Homo sapiens: one gene and its partners. The protein of the gene in region 2 interacts with the protein of the main gene of each other region in a biochemical or structural test. Each region holds a gene or a part of one and is shown on either strand. Other genes may lie near its edges.

The links. The genes of interacting proteins can lie anywhere in the genome.
Region 1: the proteins of TSR1 (region 2) and SLX9 are reported together in a solved structure, tested with the Homo sapiens proteins (one study listed by BioGRID).
Region 3: the proteins of TSR1 (region 2) and RIOK1 are reported together in a solved structure, tested with the Homo sapiens proteins (one study listed by BioGRID).

The regions. Positions count from the first base shown.
Region 1 is NC_000021.9:44,964,007-44,971,039, reverse strand, and holds part of SLX9 (ribosome biogenesis protein SLX9 homolog), read right to left. Parts: intron 4,007-7,033; coding exon 3,859-4,006; intron 1-3,858. UniProt on the Homo sapiens protein: May be involved in ribosome biogenesis.
Region 2 is NC_000017.11:2,321,869-2,326,463, forward strand, and holds the end of TSR1 (pre-rRNA-processing protein TSR1 homolog), read right to left. Parts: intron 3,553-4,595; coding exon 3,436-3,552; intron 3,397-3,435; exon of another isoform or gene 2,962-3,396; coding exon 2,821-2,961; exon of another isoform or gene 2,711-2,820; coding exon 2,636-2,710; exon of another isoform or gene 2,507-2,635; coding exon 2,328-2,506; 3' UTR 2,006-2,327; coding exon of another isoform or gene 1,787-2,005; 3' UTR 1,478-1,786; coding exon of another isoform or gene 1,268-1,477; 3' UTR 528-1,267; downstream 1-527. Other genes in the region: SRR (serine racemase), read left to right, coding at 1,268-1,477, 1,787-2,005. UniProt on the Homo sapiens protein: Required during maturation of the 40S ribosomal subunit in the nucleolus.
Region 3 is NC_000006.12:7,392,786-7,399,818, forward strand, and holds part of RIOK1 (serine/threonine-protein kinase RIO1), read left to right. Parts: exon of another isoform or gene 1-77; coding exon of another isoform or gene 78-184; intron 185-313; coding exon 314-518; intron 519-2,235; exon of another isoform or gene 2,236-2,267; coding exon 2,268-2,358; intron 2,359-3,917; coding exon 3,918-3,987; intron 3,988-5,912; coding exon 5,913-5,955; intron 5,956-7,033. UniProt on the Homo sapiens protein: Involved in the final steps of cytoplasmic maturation of the 40S ribosomal subunit. Involved in processing of 18S-E pre-rRNA to the mature 18S rRNA. Required for the recycling of NOB1 and PNO1 from the late 40S precursor.

The sequences.
Region 1 (7,033 bases), on a different chromosome or scaffold from region 2:
TCGATGCCTGCTTCCCAGCCAGGAGTGACGTGGACCCCAAACACGGGCCCTGCCCTGGCCTCTGAGATTCCAGCTCTGCATCCTGCACCCCAGGGGCATGAGGCCCTCAGGGCAGGGCGCCAGGACAGGGGATTGAGGGAGCTGGGTTGGGAGGGGACTGAGGGGACTGAGGGTTGGGAGGGGCCGTGGGGCAAGGACCCAATGCTTGGGTTCCACAAGGACAGCTCTGCCAGCCCAAGCCATATGTTCTCCCCACTAGGTGGGAAGGGGAGAAGTGAGAGACAGAGCTCCAGGCTGGGAGGGAGAGGCTGTCCACCCTCCAGCCTCCCAGGCCACTGGTGCTCGCCTGCTGACCCCTCAAGCCCAAAGCACATCAGAGTCCAAGAGTGGTGGTCAGTGGGGCAGACCTGCCTGCCGGGACCAAGATGCAGTTCCCAGAGACACGGCCCGCCGCCCAGGCACGCCAAACCCCAGATCCTGGGACAGGCGCACCGAGCCCCAGATCTCAGGGTCTCACACCTCCTGCAATACAGGGGCCAGGGCTCCCTAGAGAAACAGCAGGACTGGCAGGAGATGTCCAAGATGCGCCTGGGTTACCTGTTGGTGCTCGGCAGTGGGAAAGAGCTAAAAATACGACCCCCACGTCAATGGGGCCAAAGGGAGCTGGGGGCAACTGCAAGAACTCCCAGCGGCCAATGCTGGAACAGTTTCGGCACCAAAATCAAGTAACGCTGTGTGTAAACTAAACATCCATCTGTCCAGACCAACACCGGCGCATGAGCGACACATACACGGGGAGAAGAGACAAAGCTCCTTTCCCAGCAGGATTCCAAACAGTCTCTGTCACTGCTGTGTCTTCCAGGAGGTAGAGCACAACCCCCACCCCGAGGCCAGGGCTGCAGAGCGACTTCCTCCCAAAGCGGACAGCATGGAGGGGGGGTCTCAACCCAGCAGGGGCCAGCTCAGCCTCACGGTGAGTCAGGTGACAGGGTGTGCCCAATACAGTGGAGTGACAGTGGCACTTCGCCTCTGGGGGCTTCCTCCCCAAACCCAGTCCCTTCCTGTACCCATTAGAAAAACATCAGACAGATCTTCAGCTGACAGGCAGCTTCCTCAGAACAGTCAAGGTCATTAAAACCAAGAGGAGTCTGAGAAACTCACAGCCAAGACGGGCCGAGGGAGCCATGACATCTGAATGTCACGTGGGATCCTGTACGGATCCTGAGGCAGAAAGAGTCCGTTAGGGAAAAATGAAGGAAACCTAAGGTATGGGCTTTAGTTAACTATTAATTACTTAACGCTCACTATTTCTCTGTTGATACTGGTTCCTTCCATGTGACGAACGTACCACACTCATGTCAGAGCAACAGCATGCGGGGACGGGGGAGCTGCATGGAGCTCTTGGCACCATCTTTGCCATTTTTCTACGAATCTAAAGCCTGTCTAAAATAGGGCTGATTCCAAGAGCTCCCCCAGGGTCAGGAGGCACTGCTGCCTGAGCCACATCTGAGGAGGGACGGGGACTCCCAGCGACAGGAGGCTCTCAGGGCTGAGAGCAGATGTGCCTTCCCGGCCCAGAGCCCCGCAGGGAGGCAGGGGCACATCCTCCTCGGCCTGGGGGCTGGGTGTTGATACAGCCCTCTCCCTTCTGGGAGCGCCAAGCACATTTTTCAGATGAGAAAACTGAAAACAGGGAAAGGATACTTGACCAGGGTCACATTTTTGTCCAAGAACCAGGAATGTTCGGTCATCACATCGCCACTCCGGGCGGCCGCTCCTATTCTGGACCCAGTGCTCTGGTGCCTCCGCCGCGGGATGCCAGCCTGGAGCTGCCTGGGCCTGCAGCGCGTGACCTGCCACCCTCGAGCCTGGGCAGCTGGGCCATGAAAGGATGGACCCCAGGTTTGACACTGCACACAGCCCCTGCTTTCTGCCCAGATGGAAAGTTAGTAGGAGAAAGAAAATTATTTTTTAAACAGCAAAATTAGGCCAGGCGCGGTGGCTCACGCCTGTAATCCCAGCACTTTGGGAGGCCGAGGCGGCTGGATCACGAGGTCAGGAGATCTAGACCATCCTGGCTAACACGGTGAAACCCCGTCTCCGCTAAAAATACAAAAAATTAGCCAGGTATGGTGGCGGGCGCCTGTAGTCCCACCTACTTGGGAGGCTGAGGCAGGAGAATGGTGTGAACCCAGGAGGCGGAGCTTGCAGTGAGCCAAGATCGTGCCACTGCACTCCAGCCTGGGGGACAGAGCAAGGCTCCGTCTCCAAAAAAAAAAAAAAAAAGCACAGAGATGACACAAATGAATGAGGAAGGCCCAGAAGCTGAGACAGAACAGAGTGGTCCGGCCTCTTTCCAGCCCTGAAAGCTGGGCTGTGGCTACACAGCCCCCGCCTGAGCCCAGAGCCTCAGCACCCACACCTGGGTGGTGCCTTCCAGCCACAGGGGAAGGGCAGAGGCTGCTCTCCTTTCACGTGCATGTGACCCAGGCACAAAGAGCCTGAAAGCCAAGCTCCTGGGAGACGGGCGCCACAGGCAGCAGCTTATCAGCAGGCTGCATCCCCTGCGAGGTGACAGGGAGGGTCATGCAGCCGCTGCCCTCCTGGTTGAGCCGTCCTGGGGTGCACACACCACAGCAGGCTGGCACATGGAACACTGTCCACATTGTCAGGGCACATGGAACCTGCCACTGGCAAATGGCTCAATGGGTGGTGGGGTTGCGTCACCGGGTGGTGGTATCTTCATTGGGTGGCGGGGTTGCGTCACTGGGGGTTGTGTCACTGGGGGTTGCGTCACCGGGTGGCAGGGTTGTGTCACTGGGGGTTGCGTCACTGGGTGGCGGGGTTGTGTCACTGGGTGATGGGGTTCTGGAGGGAGCACCTCAGTGCGTCAGGAGGAGGGCTCATGCTCGGGACCAGGCCTTGCCCAGGGCAGGGGGGTGGAGGGGCCCCACTGGGGTCCAGGCCCAGGCCCAGGCCCGCTGGCTTGGCCACTCATGCACTAAGGGCCCAGAACCCACCACCCCAGCTCTCAGCAGGGGGCGGGGGAGGGGCGCTGTGATGCCAGCAGCCAAGGGTGGGGCAGGGGCCTGCCTCTTTCCTGAAGAACAAACCACATCCAGACCCGTGGTGAGGCTGGGAGGCATGTGCTTCCCACACAGGTAGGTACAGCTCGGGAGAGCAACCGCACTCACATCAGGCCCCGTCCCTCCTGGGGAGGACGCACGAGGCAGCTCCCGCCCCATGAGGACAAGCTCTGGGATGTGTGTCCCAGGGCCCTGCATGAGTGGGTCCCACACGCTCACCACACCCGACAGCAGGCCTGAGCCGTCCTCACGGGCCACCCTCTGTGCGACAGAGTGAGGGGCAGGACAGGGTGTGCAGTGTTAGGTGGGCATCAGGGAAAGGTCCACTCAGGAGGGGAGACTGCAGCCCCTGTCAGAGGCACGAGAAGAGCATGGTGGATGCTCAGGGGCCTCAGCTGAGCACAGCAGGGTCTCTGTGGGGTGGAGGCTGTGGCAGAACAGTGAGTTGGGGGGACCCCCAGTGGGACCCGGCAGGAGCTGTGGTCAATGTCGGGGGAGGGGCACATGAGGGAGCTCGGCATCAGCAGAGCCACCAGGCTCCTCACAAGGGTGGGCCTGGGTGCCCCCGAAACGTCCCCCACAGCCCCCACGGGCCTCACGAGCTCACGCCCTGAGAACAGGGTACCTGTGCGGAGCACCGGCTGGAGCCCCAGCTCTCGGCCTCTGCAGGCTCAGGAAGCACCGTGGCCCGTGGCTCCCACTCATATCCCTCCACCTCTGGACCCGGGTCAGCCCCACAGCTCGGAAAGGGCCACCCCTCCCGGACACTCACCTGCGGGCTTGGCGCCGGCTGCCAGCCTCGAGCCCCAGCAGCTCGGGCAGGGCATCCCTGAGAGGGTGCAGGTCCCCCACCACCACCGTGGCCCTCCGCCTCCGCTCCTCCCTGTGCTTCTGCTCAGCCAGTTTTATGGCTTCGATTTCTAAGGAAGGAGAAACGACGTTAGAGGCAAACAAGAGGCAGAGGAGGAGCCCAGGCCCAGAGCCTCTGGCCCACGAGAGACCTGGCAGGGTGCCCGGCCCTGCTGCCTCTCTCCTTCCCGCTGTCACCCCCATTCCGCCCCTGGGAACCTGCAGGGCGGGCAGGCTTGAGTTATTTTCTTCCCCTTAATGACAGAGCTGCGCTTTTTAATCGCAGGGCTGACAATGAGGTGGAACTGCAGCCACTGAGGATTTCTCCTGCAAAGGGACGCTGGCAACTGTGGCCGGAGCACGCGTAGGGGAGTGCACACAGCCACCGAGCAGAGGGGACAGAGGGGAATGAGGAAAAGGGGCCCTCAACTTAAGATGGCAAGTCACAGCCTGGGAGGCTCAGCTTTGTTCCCAGGAGGGAGAGGGCTCCCCAGAGGGAAGGGGAGAAGCCCCAGGACAGACCTGAGGGCTTGGGGCCATGGGGGGTGGCAGGTAGGGCTGAGGCCTCCACGCTAGAGAAGGGATTTGGGCAGGGTCTGGACAGAAGGGGTATGGCCTTGGGATTTGATTTAATTTAAAAATGTATTTATCTCAAAACTGCTAAGAGAACACATGCTCGGACATGCTGCTCACTGCACGTGGCTCCTGGAGGCTGTGGAGCGCGGACGGCCTGCTCTCTTCAGGGCAACCCACCGGGACAGGCCTGCAGCTCAAACACTGCCAGCTCGTGACACAGGCCCGGGCATGGCAGACCTGTGCCCCCTGGGGGGAATGCCCAGGTTTCCAGAGGTGACAACAGCCAGCTCCTCTCCAATCCCGCTGTCTGGGACAGCGGCGCCCCTCTCAGCCCCCAGGGCAGGTGGCTCGCAGAACAAGGTGTGAAGGGCCCACCCTGACCAACCCGAAATCAGGGGATGCCACCCTGCCCTGGGTCCCTGTAGCAGGGTGTGTTTACCTGGCTCCAAATCACTGACAAGAACCTGGGACAAAGACCACCCTTCCTCTGGGTCCTCAGCCCCCAGTGCAGGTTGAGAGCTTGGAAGGTGTACACCAGCTCTCCACAGCCTTGGGAATCACGGGGGTTTATAAGGTAAGAATCCAGCGCTTACTCCACCCTGCCTGGACTGTGGTAGACACGTTACTCGGCACCTCATTAAAAGAGAGCCAGGGCACCCTGGAAGCTGGGGTAGGGAGGGGCGGGCCAGGCCAGATGGCTCCTTCACAGGCTGCAGACCCAGGCCAGGAAAAGCAAAGCAGAGGCATGTGGTTCCCGTGAGGACAGACACAAAGGCCCGCACCTCAGCAAGCCAAAGCCAGAAGCCTTTCAAAAGAAGGATACCTTGTGCCCAAGCAGGGTGAGCCCCAGGCATGCAAGGATGGTTCTCCCGGGAAATGCCTCAGGGTGACCCTCCACAGTGGCCACTCAAGAGGCAAGAAAGCCTATGGTCACCACCACCAGTGTGCAGAGGATTCTGCACAATTCACTGCCCACGCATGAGAAAAATTACAATGAAACCACAAACGGAAGGAAGCTCCTTGACAGATGAGCTGCTAGAAACCCACAGTGAGTATCACATTTCAGGGCAAAACATTAGACACTCAATGATAAATCCGAGCAAGGAAAAGATGACCACAATATCGACAATCCCACCCGGCCCACTCAATTCTGAGGGGGAGGGAGGGAGCGAGGCAGTGGCGGGGCGGGACCCACGGCCTGGGAACACTCAGCACTGCTCTCATCTGCAGCACCTAGGGGAGGTCCCACACAAACACCAGCTTCCAAGCAGCCAGGAGAACCAACGGGAGAGTGCAGTTCTTCTCTGTCAGTTACTCCGGAAAAATCGGATGCTGCCTCAGCTAAAATTTCAACGGGATTTTTAGTCAAACCTGTGCAGCTAATTCTAAACTTTATGTTTTAAAAACAACTAAATGCATAAGAATAGTAAAAACATTTTTTACAAAGAACAAGCAACAAGAAAGTAGGGCTATCGGATATTAAAGCAAATTATAAAATAACAGAAATTAACAGCGTGGCAAAAGTGCTGATGAACACTCAGTGGACGCAGGGCAGACCAGGCAAAGTGTGAGCATGACACGTGAGGTTAGATAAACTGGGGTCCTCCTGGGGAAAGAGTCAGAGTCCCTCTCACACTGTTCCTAAAAATCAGTATGTATGAATTAAATACTAAAAACAAAGAGGAATCAAAGGCCAAAAAATACAGCAGGAGCCACTCGACTGGATTAGAAATCAAGGAAATGTTGCACCTCATAGACTGGCAAATTTTTAAATGTTTCATAATATCGAGTGTTCGAGGACGGAGGGAGCTGATGGGTGGGTGTGAACTGGCCCAGCCGCCTTGGAGGACAACTGAGGGTTGGGAAAGTCAAGTGGGACATGTGTGTGGTTCCAACTACCCACCCTCCCGCCCACAGGGCATGGGGAGCCACTGTCCACGGCACGGCTGGGGCACAGGCTGTGTGGTGGAGCATAGAGGCGCTACCTGGGCACTGGGGAGGTATGTGGACAAAACAAAGCAAAGCAAGGGATGGAGAGTGACCGGGGGAGGCCTCCAGGAGTGGGAGGGCCCTGCAACGGGAGGAACAGCAAGGACAAACTTTGCAAGCTTGTCCTCATAAAGGCAAGGTGGGGTGGCGCGTGCAGATCCACAGGGGAAATTTCAACACATATTGGGGAAAAAAAGCAAATTGAGGGAAAAAATCCACACATACAGAAAACATGCATTTCTAAAGATCCTAAGGAATCTACAAAATGACTACCAGACCTAATGCATGATATTAGTAAATTCATAGGATACAAGATTAGTATTTTAAAAAACCAATTGTATTTTAACATACTAGCAGAGAGCTGAGAAAAAACTGCATTTATGACAGCATAAAAAACTATAAAATACTTAGCAATAAGCTTATTATAAGATGTAAGATCTCTACACTAAAACTGAATAACATTGATGATGAAATTTAAATGGTGAGATATACTATGTTCATGAATTTGAAGATCTGCTTTGCTAAGATGGTAA
Region 2 (4,595 bases):
CCGGGTTCAAGCGATTCTCCTGTCTCAGCCTCCTGAGTAGCTGGGATTACAGGCATGAGCCACCACACCCCGCTAATTTTTTTGTATTTTTTTTAGTAGAGACAGGGTTTCACCATGTTGGTCAGGCTGGTCTTGAACTCCTGACCTTGCGATCCACCCGCCTTGGCCTCCCAAAGTGTTGGGATTACAGGCGTGAGCCACTGCGCCCGGCCTATTTATTATTTCTAATATTTTTATTTTTTTTAAGAGATGGGGTCTTGCTGTGTTGGCCAGGTTGGTCTGGAACTCCTGGGCTCAAGCAGTCCTTACTTTGGCCTCCCAAAGTGCTAGGATTACAGGTGTGAGCCACCGCACCCAGCCAACTCTCTTCTTAATCCATGACAATTTTACAGCACAAAAGCAGTTACAAGTGACACCATCATAGTCTTTTCCCTGAATTCCATGTCATCAAGCTACTATCCATACCAAGGGGCTACCCTTTTCTCAAATTACCAGGACAATCAGATGTGATCCAGGCAATGGAAGGCTAGTATCAGACATATAATTTATTTATAAAGTGCTTGAAGATATTTTCATTACATCCACAAAAGGGAAGGCTCTTACTTGGGCAGAAATGTATTACTTATTGTGCCTATTTTCTTTTTTTTTTTGAGACGGAGTCTCACTCTGTCACCCAGGCTGGAGTGCAGTGGCACGATCTTGGCTCACTGCAAGCTCCACCTCCCAGGTTCACGCCATTCTCCTGCCTCTGCCTCCCGAGTAGCTGGGACTACAGGTGCCTGCCACCATGCCTGGCTAGTTTTTTTTTGTTTTTTTTTTTTGTATTTTTAGTAGAGACGGGGTTTCACCGTGTTAGCCAGGATGGTCTTGATCTCCCTACCTCGTGATCCGCCCACCTCGGCCTCCCAAAGTGCTGGGATTACAGGCGTGAGCCACTGCGCCCCACCCCATTTTGGTGTGATCTCAGCTCACTGCAACCTACCCCTCCCAAGTTCAAGTGATTCTCCTACCTCAGCCTCTTGAGTAGCTGGGATTACAGGGGTCTGCCACCACGCCTGGCTGATTTTCCTATTTTTAGTTGACACTGCATTTCACCAGGTTGGCCAGGCTGGTCTTGAACTCCTGACCTCAGCTGATCCACCCGCCTCGGGCTCCCAAAGTGTTGGGATTACAGGTGTGAGCCACCACACCAGGCCCATATTTTCTTTTAGACATGCAGGCAATGTTGTGGTTTGTTGTTAAGATGTCTTAATATTCCTCTTCCCAGGCTCTGAAACCTAGTGTGAAGGTATATGCTGCTGAACCCTCAAATGCAGATGACTGCTACCAGTCCAAGCTGAAGGGGAAACTGATGCCCAATCTTTATCCTCCAGAAACCATAGCAGATGGTGTCAAATCCAGCATTGGCTTGAACACCTGGCCTATTATCAGGGACCTTGTGGATGATATCTTCACTGTCACAGAGGATGAAATTAAGGTGAGGCTCCAGCAAGAAAAGAAATAGCAAAGCATGGTGTAACTTCTTAGGCAGAAGAAACTTCCCTTAGGAGTAGCAAGTGACCCACGGGAACCTGACTAGGTAACTTCATGACATGGGAGGGTACCCTAGATGTATTAATGACAACCCTCTTGACAGAAGCAGAGTCAGAATTAAAGAAAAGCTTTGGGAAGCGTGTGTACACAGTGATAAGAAAATTCAAACTGGACACGTATTCTCATCTGAACTTTATAGGTAAACCAACTAGACTCCCCTTTCACTAATTCCTACTCCCTTCCATATCAACAGTGTGCAACCCAGCTGGTGTGGGAGAGGATGAAACTACTCATTGAACCTACAGCTGGTGTTGGAGTGGCTGCTGTGCTGTCTCAACATTTTCAAACTGTTTCCCCAGAAGTAAAGAACATTTGTATTGTGCTCAGTGGTGGAAATGTAGACTTAACCTCCTCCATAACTTGGGTGAAGCAGGCTGAAAGGCCAGCTTCTTATCAGTCTGTTTCTGTTTAATTTACAGAAAAGGAAATGGTGGGAATTCAGTGTCTTTAGATACTGAAGACATTTTGTTTCCTAGTATTGTCAACTCTTAGTTATCAGATTCTTAATGGAGAGTGGCTATTTCATTAAGATTTAATAGTTTTTTTTGGACTAAGTAGTGGAAAAACTTTTATACTTAACTGAGACATTTTGTCAAGGCTAAAAAAAAGTCTTGCAAAATGGGGCAGTGGACTGACAGGCTGACATAGAAAATAAACTTTGCCCAATCACAACTTGTGCCTCCCATCCCTGGAGTACTGACTGGCACCGGTAAGACAGAATCTCTTTGAATCCATTACTCCATGCCCCCTTGAGGCACTGTTGAAGAAATCTCACTTTTCAGCCAGGGTACTGGTTCTGGTACATATGGATCATAAGTCCATTTGGGGAAGACTCGTTTATACAGGTTCATCAGTACTGTGTCTTGAGATTTTAGCTTCCCATCAAAGCTGCATTTCATGTGGCCATGGGTACCTAGAAAGACATCAGAACAAGTCGGTCAAATTAAAAGTAGAAAATTTTAAAGCAATGACTTCCAACCCAACAGTCATTTAGCAACACTGCAGAAATGCAGACATGGTCTCAAATCCCGTGTTTCCTTACCTAAAGGTTCCTTGATATGTCCTCTCCGGCCCCACTTCGTTCTCAGTTCCACTGGTTTAAACCACAGCACATCCTCTTAGAATCAAACACATTAAAGACCAAGATGAAACATTTACCCACAAAATGTAAACCCAACCTTTATACCACAAAGGCAATCAGATCCCATCCTCCTCCTTCATACCCACCTCTGTTGAAGAACATGTAACGTACTACTGCCATCTTAGTAAAAATTTTGAAAGGATGACCACTCAGAACAACTCTCTTGATGACCATTCTGTCTGGATCTACTGACATAAGATGGCCTGTAGCAATGAGGCTGTGCATTCCTAAAGGACAAAAGCAAAGAAGCTATTTAGGAATTTACAGGCCAAAGTCTTCATTTATTGCCCAGTCCATTTAAAGACCCATGCAAGAGCCTGGTTTGTCATCCCTGCCCTAGCCCAATCTGAGGCTAAGATTGGTAAACTGTAAGCCCACACTTAACCTTGTCAATAGGTTCTTGAAAACTTGTACTTCAAGAGAAATGATGTATAACAAAACCATACTTTTTCTCATCAGTTGTTACAAGGAAAGGATGTTGAACAAAAGGCAGTTATTTGAGGACTGGCTATACACTGTTTCACGTAAAAGTTGGAGTTTTCATTGTTCTATTAACAATGTTAAATGAAGACTTACTGTATTTTGAAAACCATCATTACCTTCTCCATACCATTTGGCTCCCAAATTTAAATAAACAAGAGAAAACGGTGTTCATCTATTAAGGACCTGCAGGGTCTGTTCATCTCTGTGGCTCAACTTACCATTGCTTTTTTGCTTGAAAAGCAGCACAGATGCAGGAGGAAAAGTGATTGGCGCATAGACTGTCGCCACCAGGGCCATGTCAGCAGTCAGGAATCTCTGCAATTTATGTTTGTCCGCTGCCATAAGGGTTAAAAAATGAAAAGCAAAACCATTTTGAGAAACCAGAGGTGATAGAGGCCTGTGAAAAGCTGTATTAGTGCAACTCTTAAACCTATGGCAGCTTCTACTTCTCTAAACCACCAGTTCTCAAAAATTTTCGCTGCCTCAATGCACCTAAAAGATACGATCTAGTCCTATCAGTAACTTTTTTTTTTTCTTTTTTTTTGAGTTTGAGTATCGTTCCTGTCACCCAGGCTGGAATGCAATGGTGTGATCTCAGCTGACTGCAACCTCTGCCTCCCGGGTTCAAGCAGTTCTCCTGCCTCAGCCTCCTGAGTAGCTGGGATTACAGGCACATGCCACCACGCCCGGCTAATTTTTGTATTTTTAGTAGAGACCGGGTTTCACCATGTTGGCCAGGCTGGTCTCGAACTCCTCACCTTGTGATCCACCCACCTCAATCTCCCAAAGTGCTGGGATTACAGGCGTGAGCCACCGCGCCAGGCTGTATCAGTAACTTTTTATTTATTTATTTATTTTGAGATGGTGTCTCGCTCTTGTTGCCCAGGCTGGAGTACAATGGTGCCATCTCTGCTCACTGCAACCTCCACCTCCCAGGTTCAAGTGATTCTTCTGCCTCAGGCTCCCGAATAGCTGGAATTGCAGGTGCCTGATCAGTAACTTTTTTATCTGGAGTCAGAATCTTGGAGCCTAGACTGTATTTGATGTTCTACCTTCAAGGTAGCCCTCACCTCCTTTTTAAAATACTAAACTTAAAGGAAAATAAAATATTTTAAGGCAAAGAAAAATTAATCTCACTTAGAGATTGTGATTCTCACAATTGGTGAGAATAAAAATTATCCAAAACACCATTAATACTGCTTTCTTCATATTCCTCCTGCCACTGCTGAGAGTGAGTGAACTAGGACGATGTTCAGAAGCCCCCAAGTTAGTGGGCAACATATCTTCCTGCTCCTACTGTGTAGGAGACAATCATTTCTGCTGCAAGTCCCGTCCAGTAGTCTCTCAGTATCTCAGGACCCCTACCTCTGCTTTACCC
Region 3 (7,033 bases), on a different chromosome or scaffold from region 2:
GGTCTGAGTTGTTTATTCAGCAGAGAAGATAACAATATAATTTCTAACTTTAACAAGGCAGAAGCAGATTTAACTTGATGTGCTTCTTGAATAGTAGGCTTTGGGCATGGAGAATGAGCAAACAACTGCAACAGAACTGGAAAACAGGAGAACATGGTTTTAAGGAGATGGAGCTTATCGGAAGGTGTATTTTATATAAATATATAATCTTTTAGATTTATCAATATTTTAATATCTTACATCATAAATATGTGAGATCAGTTAGGGTATGTGGAAATATTGTTATGAAATAATAAAACATTGTTATTTCTAGTGAAAACAGAGACTTGAAGACAGTCAAAGAGAAGGATGACATTCTGTTTGAAGACCTTCAAGACAATGTGAATGAGAATGGTGAAGGTGAAATAGAAGATGAGGAGGAGGAGGGTTATGACGATGATGATGATGACTGGGACTGGGATGAAGGAGTTGGAAAACTCGCCAAGGGTTATGTCTGGAATGGAGGAAGCAACCCACAGGTATTTTATAAAGGATCCTGCACATCTTTATGTAGTCTGCTTATGTCTACTTTTTTAAAAGGCTGTTTTGTGATTCTGAAATTGAATAACTAAAAGATTTTCTTCATGTTATATTGTCCTGTAGCCTCAGCCTTTACTGATTTTCACTTTTCATCCTTTCTGTATTTCTGATAATTTCCTGGGTGTGGATTCTTTCCAGAATCTGTAAATTTAAAAAGAGTTATAAAGATTGTGAGCTTAAAATCTTCATGGGAAAGGGCATGGATTGGCAGTTTACTACAAATAGTTAAGAAACATGGTAAAAAAGTTCAGCCTCATTGGTAATTAAAGAAATGCAGATTAAATTTGTAGAGATGCCGTTTTTTCACCTGTGAAACTGTTAAAGACAAAACATATCATTGATGGTCAAGTAAATAGGTGCACTTACTTGTAGGATAAGCTGGTATGTGATAAAAACTTTAAAAGCTTCAAAATACTTTGACTTAGCGATTCTGTGAGTGTGCCAAGACTTAGTTACAAGAATGATCCTCCAGGATTGTTTATGGTAGAGGAACATTGGAAGCAACCTTGAACGGGATTAAACCTGCTATGGGACTGATTCGCACAATGAGGCATTATACAGCCATAAAAGATGTTGTAATGGAAGACTGTATTAATGAGATAGGAATATGTTTGTGATTATTTACCATGTACAAAAAAAAGTTACCAAACCACGTACAGCTGCTGCTCATACTGGAAGTACCAAGTGTGTTAGGAGTTTGTAAGGCCATAGGATTAACATGGTACATCTTCCTGGAGCATAAAGGTTAATCCAGCAGTCTTCCTTTGACCATTAAAATGGCTATATCGGCTGGGCGCAGTGGCTCCTGCCTCTAATCCCAGCACTTTGGGAGGCCGAGCTGGGCGGATCACCTGAGATCAGGAGTTTGAGACCAGCCTGGCCAACATGGCGAAACCCTGTCTCTACTAAAAACACAAAAATTAGCCGGGCGTGGTGGTGGGTGCCTGTAATCCCAGCTACTCGGGAGGCTGAGGCTGGAGAATCGCCTGAACCCAGGAGGCGGAGGTTGCAGTGAGCCAAGATCACACCACTGCACTCCAGCCTGGGCAACAGAGCGAGACTCTGTCTGTAAAAAACAACAACAATAAAATGGCTATATCATGGACCAGAATGTGTGCATTTTAAAATAACCACATTGTGAGTGACGACAAATTTTGCATTTTTATATCGTCTTGTTCTGGTGACTCCTTCACTGATTCATAATGAGGCTTTGAGCAATTTCATTATTGAAGTTTGCGCATAGCACCAGCGTAAGTGCTGAGCCTCGTACTTAATATTTCCCTCTCTTGAGACATTGGGCCCAAAATGAAATTCTGAACCAGCTTAATGCTGGTCTTAGCTCTTTATTATATACTTTGGGGGTAAATGAACATTCTCAAATTTTAAGTCTATAAACCAGTCAAATTAGAAAACTACACTTAATTTTAATCTGTTACTTATAATAAGAGGAATCATAGAGAAGTTAAAAAAACGGATTATGCAGACTCTTTTAGTCAGTAATTTTAACCTTCTGTTTCAAATGCTCTTTAAAAAATTTTTTGAGCCAATTTGATTGACTCTTACCTTTCCTTAAGATACTCCTCTAAGTATTGATGCTTTAATAGCTAAGTATGAACTAAGGAAATGTGATGATGAATCTTAGGTTTGTTTTTACAGCTAGTGCCTTAGACTCTGGAATTCCCTTCTAGGCAAATCGACAGACCTCCGACAGCAGTTCAGCCAAAATGTCTACTCCAGCAGACAAGGTCTTACGGAAATTTGAGAATAAAATTAATTTAGGTGAGTTTACAAAATACATCACTGGGCTAAGAGGACATTTTTCAAAAACCATGGAGTGTTGTATAATTTTATTAGATCAAGAAATGAAGGCTGGCCGTGGTGGCTCACGCCTGTAATCCCGGCACTTTGGGAGGCTGAAGTGGGTGGATCACCTGAGGTCAGGAGTTTGAGACCAGCCTGACCAACATAGTGAAACCCTATCTCTACTAAAAATACAAAATTAGCTGGGCGTGGTGGCACATGCCTGTAATCCCAGCTACTTGGGAGGCTGAGGCAGGAGAATCCCTTGAACCTGGGAGGTGGAGGTTGTGATGAGCCGAGATTGTGCCGTTGCACTCCAACCTGGACAATAAGGGCAAAATTCCATCTCAAAAAAAAAAAAAAAGAAAAAAGGAATGAATGTATTCAAGTGTTACTAACTCAATAATGTTTAGAGAAAATAAAAATCGTAATTTAAAAACATAACTTTAGGAAAAGACTTAAGCTTATGCTATTTTGGTTGTTTTCCCACTTGCCATAGGAATGTAATGTTACAAAAACCCATTTAAGTATTGTCTGTTCGGTTTTAGGTTTTTTTTTTTTTTGAGACAGGGTCTCACTCTGTCACCCAGGCTAGAGTGCAGTGGCACGATCTTGGCTCACTCCAACCCTGATTTCTGGGGTTCAGACGATCCTCCCACCTTAGCCTCCCAAGTAGCTAGGACCACAGGTGCACACCACCACACCCGGCCAATTTTTATTTTCTGTAGAGACGGGGTTTCTCCATGTTGACCAGGCTGGTTTTGAACTCCTGAGCTCAAGTGATCTGTCCGCCTCAGCCTCCCAAAATGTTGGGATTACAGGTGTGAGCCACTGCGCCTGGCCTGTTTTAGATTTTGTAATAGGGTTATCTCATAGTAGGATGTTGAAAATACTAGAGTATTGAATATAGTTACATACGGTTTCACTAGAGGTTTTTTGTGTAGGTGTTAATTATTTAGTGACCTGTTCGATGCCAGGCATCAGAATGTTAATTTGAATCATCATCTCATAGAAAATGTAAGAGGGATGGAGGGAAGGAAGGAAGGCCATCTTTCTATTCTTGTGGATCTTCACTCTAAACCTAACACAGTGTTTCTCATATAAGCTGTCAATACATGCTAAATTAATATAAGTATTTTAGGGCCTTCTTTGCCTATCATAGACTTATAACTTGAAGTGAAACAAGTTTTTAGAATTAAACTTGAAATTCAGGCAGTTTTATTAGTCATGTGGAGTACTAGCAAGTGTCTGAAATTTATTATGCAAATTATTATCTTTGAAGAATTTCTGCATCTAGAATTCTGTGGCTCAAATATTATAGCTGTAGTGATGAAAGTGACACTTACGAAGGAAACGCAGTTTAGTGCCTACTTTTAAAAACATTACATTGTTTTCATTACTAAACTGTATTCTATTTACAATAAAACATTTAGAAAGTGTAGAAGAGAAGGAAGAGGGGAGAAATACCCTGTTCAGCAACTCTGTTAATGTCTTTTCGTCTTACATATTGTTTACATTGTGGGTTTCTTGTATTTTAGATAAGCTAAATGTTACTGATTCCGTCATAAATAAAGTCACCGAAAAGTCTAGACAAAAGGAAGCAGATATGTAAGTAATATTTTAATAATATGCATGGGTGATAAGGACTAATCTAGATTAAGCAGCACCTTGATCATAATTCTTTTACAGAGGATGTTCATTTGTATACTTAAACCAATCATTATTTTGGTGTGTGTGTGTGTGTGTGTGTGTGTGTTTTCCTTAGCTTAAATTAGGATAACCTATGCCTTTGTGAATTAAAAATATTAATGAATCTTGGCTGGGTGTGGTGGCTCATGCCTGTAATCCCATCACTTCAGAAGGCCGAGCTGTGGGGATCACTTGAGGCCAGGAGTTTGAGACCAGCCTGGCCAACATGGTGAAACCATGTCTGTACAAAAAATACAAAAATTAGCCAGACATGGTGGTGCACGCCTGTAATCCCAGCTACTCAGGAGGCTGAGGTGTGAGAATCTCTTGAACCTGGGAGGTGGAGGTTGCAGTGAGCCAAGATCGTGCCACTGCACTCCAGCCTGGGCCACAGAGCGAGACTCCATCTCAAAAATAAATACATAAAATAAAAATTAATGAATTTTAAGAAATACATGGTAAAAGTGTAATCTCATGAAATTTACAAATGTGTTCTTATGAGGGGAACAGTGTTTGTAGATTTCAGTTTAAACTAAAATGTGCAAAAATGTTCCCTTAAAATTTATTAAGAATTATTCTTTCCCATGAAGTATTTTTAAAAATTTAAGGGAAGACTATGAACTAATGATATAACTGAGAACTGTTTCTGTTTACACTTCTGTTCTCAAAGCCAATTGTTTAAGATCTGAATAACTTCTCTTATATGCTAATAACTCTAAAGTATTATCACTATATTATAGAAAACGACACTAAGATCATACAACTAACTGTGAGAATTGAACGTAAAAGCCAGCTTTCTTCCAATTTATTGCTATGTCCAAGAGGTATCAGCTTTTTGAGATACACCATAGTTATTTGTTATTTCACTGGTATCTGTTTGAATCTTTGTGTTTAAACCTTTATTAGTTTAGGTTAGTGTGCTAGGTGGAGTCACTCAGTGTATAAGCAGAAGCAAATCAGAGTCTGCATTTGAATACTGTCTTGAAACGATTTTAAAAAACAAAACTGCCAGGTGCAGTGGCTCACGCCTGTAATCCCAGCACTTTGGGAGGCAGAGGCGGGCGGATCACAAGGTCAGGAGATCGAGACCATCTTGGCTAACAAGGTGAAATCCTGTCTCTACTAAAAATACAAAAAAATTAGCCGGGCTTGGCGGCGGGCGCCTGTAGTCCCAGCTACTCGGGAGGCTGAGGCAGGAGAATGGCGTGAACCCGGGAGGCAGAGCTTGCAGTGAGCCGAGATCGTGCCACTGCACTCCAGCCTGGGCGACAGAGCGAGACTCCATCTCAAAACAAACAAACAAAAACAAAAACAAAAAAACTTGTATCTTCTTAGAAAATGCCTCTAAACAGAAAGCCTTGTAAATGACTAACTCTATGTGGAGGCTGGGGCAGGAGGAATACTTGAGCCCAGGAGTCTATGCCTAGCCTGGGCAACATAGTAAGATGCTGTCTCTTTAAAAAAAAAAAAGAAGACAAGACTTTAATTGTGTGCTAACAGAATCATTAAAGATGTGAAGGACAGTACAAATATACTCAATGTTTTCTCTTTTTCAGCATAGTTCACTTTACCCTGGCGGCTCTTTGATGCTTCTGAAATAGGAATAGATTTTTCTTTTTACTGTATACATACTCCTTTTGCCAAAATACAGAATTGAATTTTGGTATTCAGGGGAAATGAAGAAAGTTTCACTGAGTAATGAAAAATCTACAATCATATCATAAAATCTGTTATTTAGAGAAACTACCTACTTAGGAATTTTCATGAAATTATCTACATTTAGAAGATTTTGGCTTCTCACTGAATTTTGAATGTGTCAACTATACGTTTTTGTTTTTGGTTAGGTATCGCATCAAAGATAAGGCAGACAGAGCAACTGTAGAACAGGTACAATTTAAATGTGTTGCAAACTCTTCTTTTTAATTAGCATTTCTTCTCTCTTTGAATTGTAGTTTGCTTTTATCCTTTTTGCTTAATGCTAATGTTACCTAAAATTACTCCTATATAAAATTATTCCTTTTTATAGTTTCGAGTTTAGAGACCTACATCTTGCTTTTATAGGACTATTGGATGAATTAGAGTCATGGTCCTTCAGTGGCCTTGCAGAGCCACCATGCGATGCTTTCCCTTCTTGGAGAGATTATCAGACCAGCAATCTTTTAGAAAAGGTCCGTAGGAATTTTGTGAGCTTTCCCAGAAGATAGGTAGGGTATCTGCCACAAAGCAGGAAGTGTGGGTGTAAAAGAGAGAGGGGCAGATAATGTCTTCAAATTTCCAGTTAGGAATCCTTTGTTTAGAAATTATGCTTGTTTTATTCTTTCTATTCAAGAATGGGGAAAAATTGGCCCCTAATTTTCCCACATTCCGAAGAATGTGATTGGATATTAGCCTTGGCCCAGATTTTTGATGTGAAGAAAGTGATAAAAAGAGTCAGAACATTTGCCTCTGCCACCTACCACTCCTTTCCACCACCCCCTCCCATATACACAAGCACATGTTCTGAATTCCACCATTAGACAGAAGCCGGGTCTGTGGTCTGTGTCTTCATTGTCCCCTAGTTTATTTTGTGATTTATTTCTGTAATTGAAAACAAAGTATGGTTCACCTCGGAAAAATGAGATAGCCTTAAGTTTCAAAGACCCTAAATAACTTTAGGGTTATTTTTGGCAGGAAATTCTTTTTCTCTTTCAAAATTAATTTTGAATGATAGAGTACATAGCTGGAGTCTTCAGCTGTCTATATAAAATATATGCTTGTGTGTAAATTTATCATTTCTCTTTCCCTGTTTTGTTCTTAAGCCATCTGGTTTGTTACTTCTTCCTATGCCCCTGACTTGTCTAACTGCCAACTTCGCAGAAGCACAGTTCTGTACCTAGAGGCCCATACTCAGCCAGCTGACTTCCCCTCTTTGCTTACCTGTGCAGTAGAGAAGAAATGGAAACTAGTGCCTTTTCATTCTTCTCTA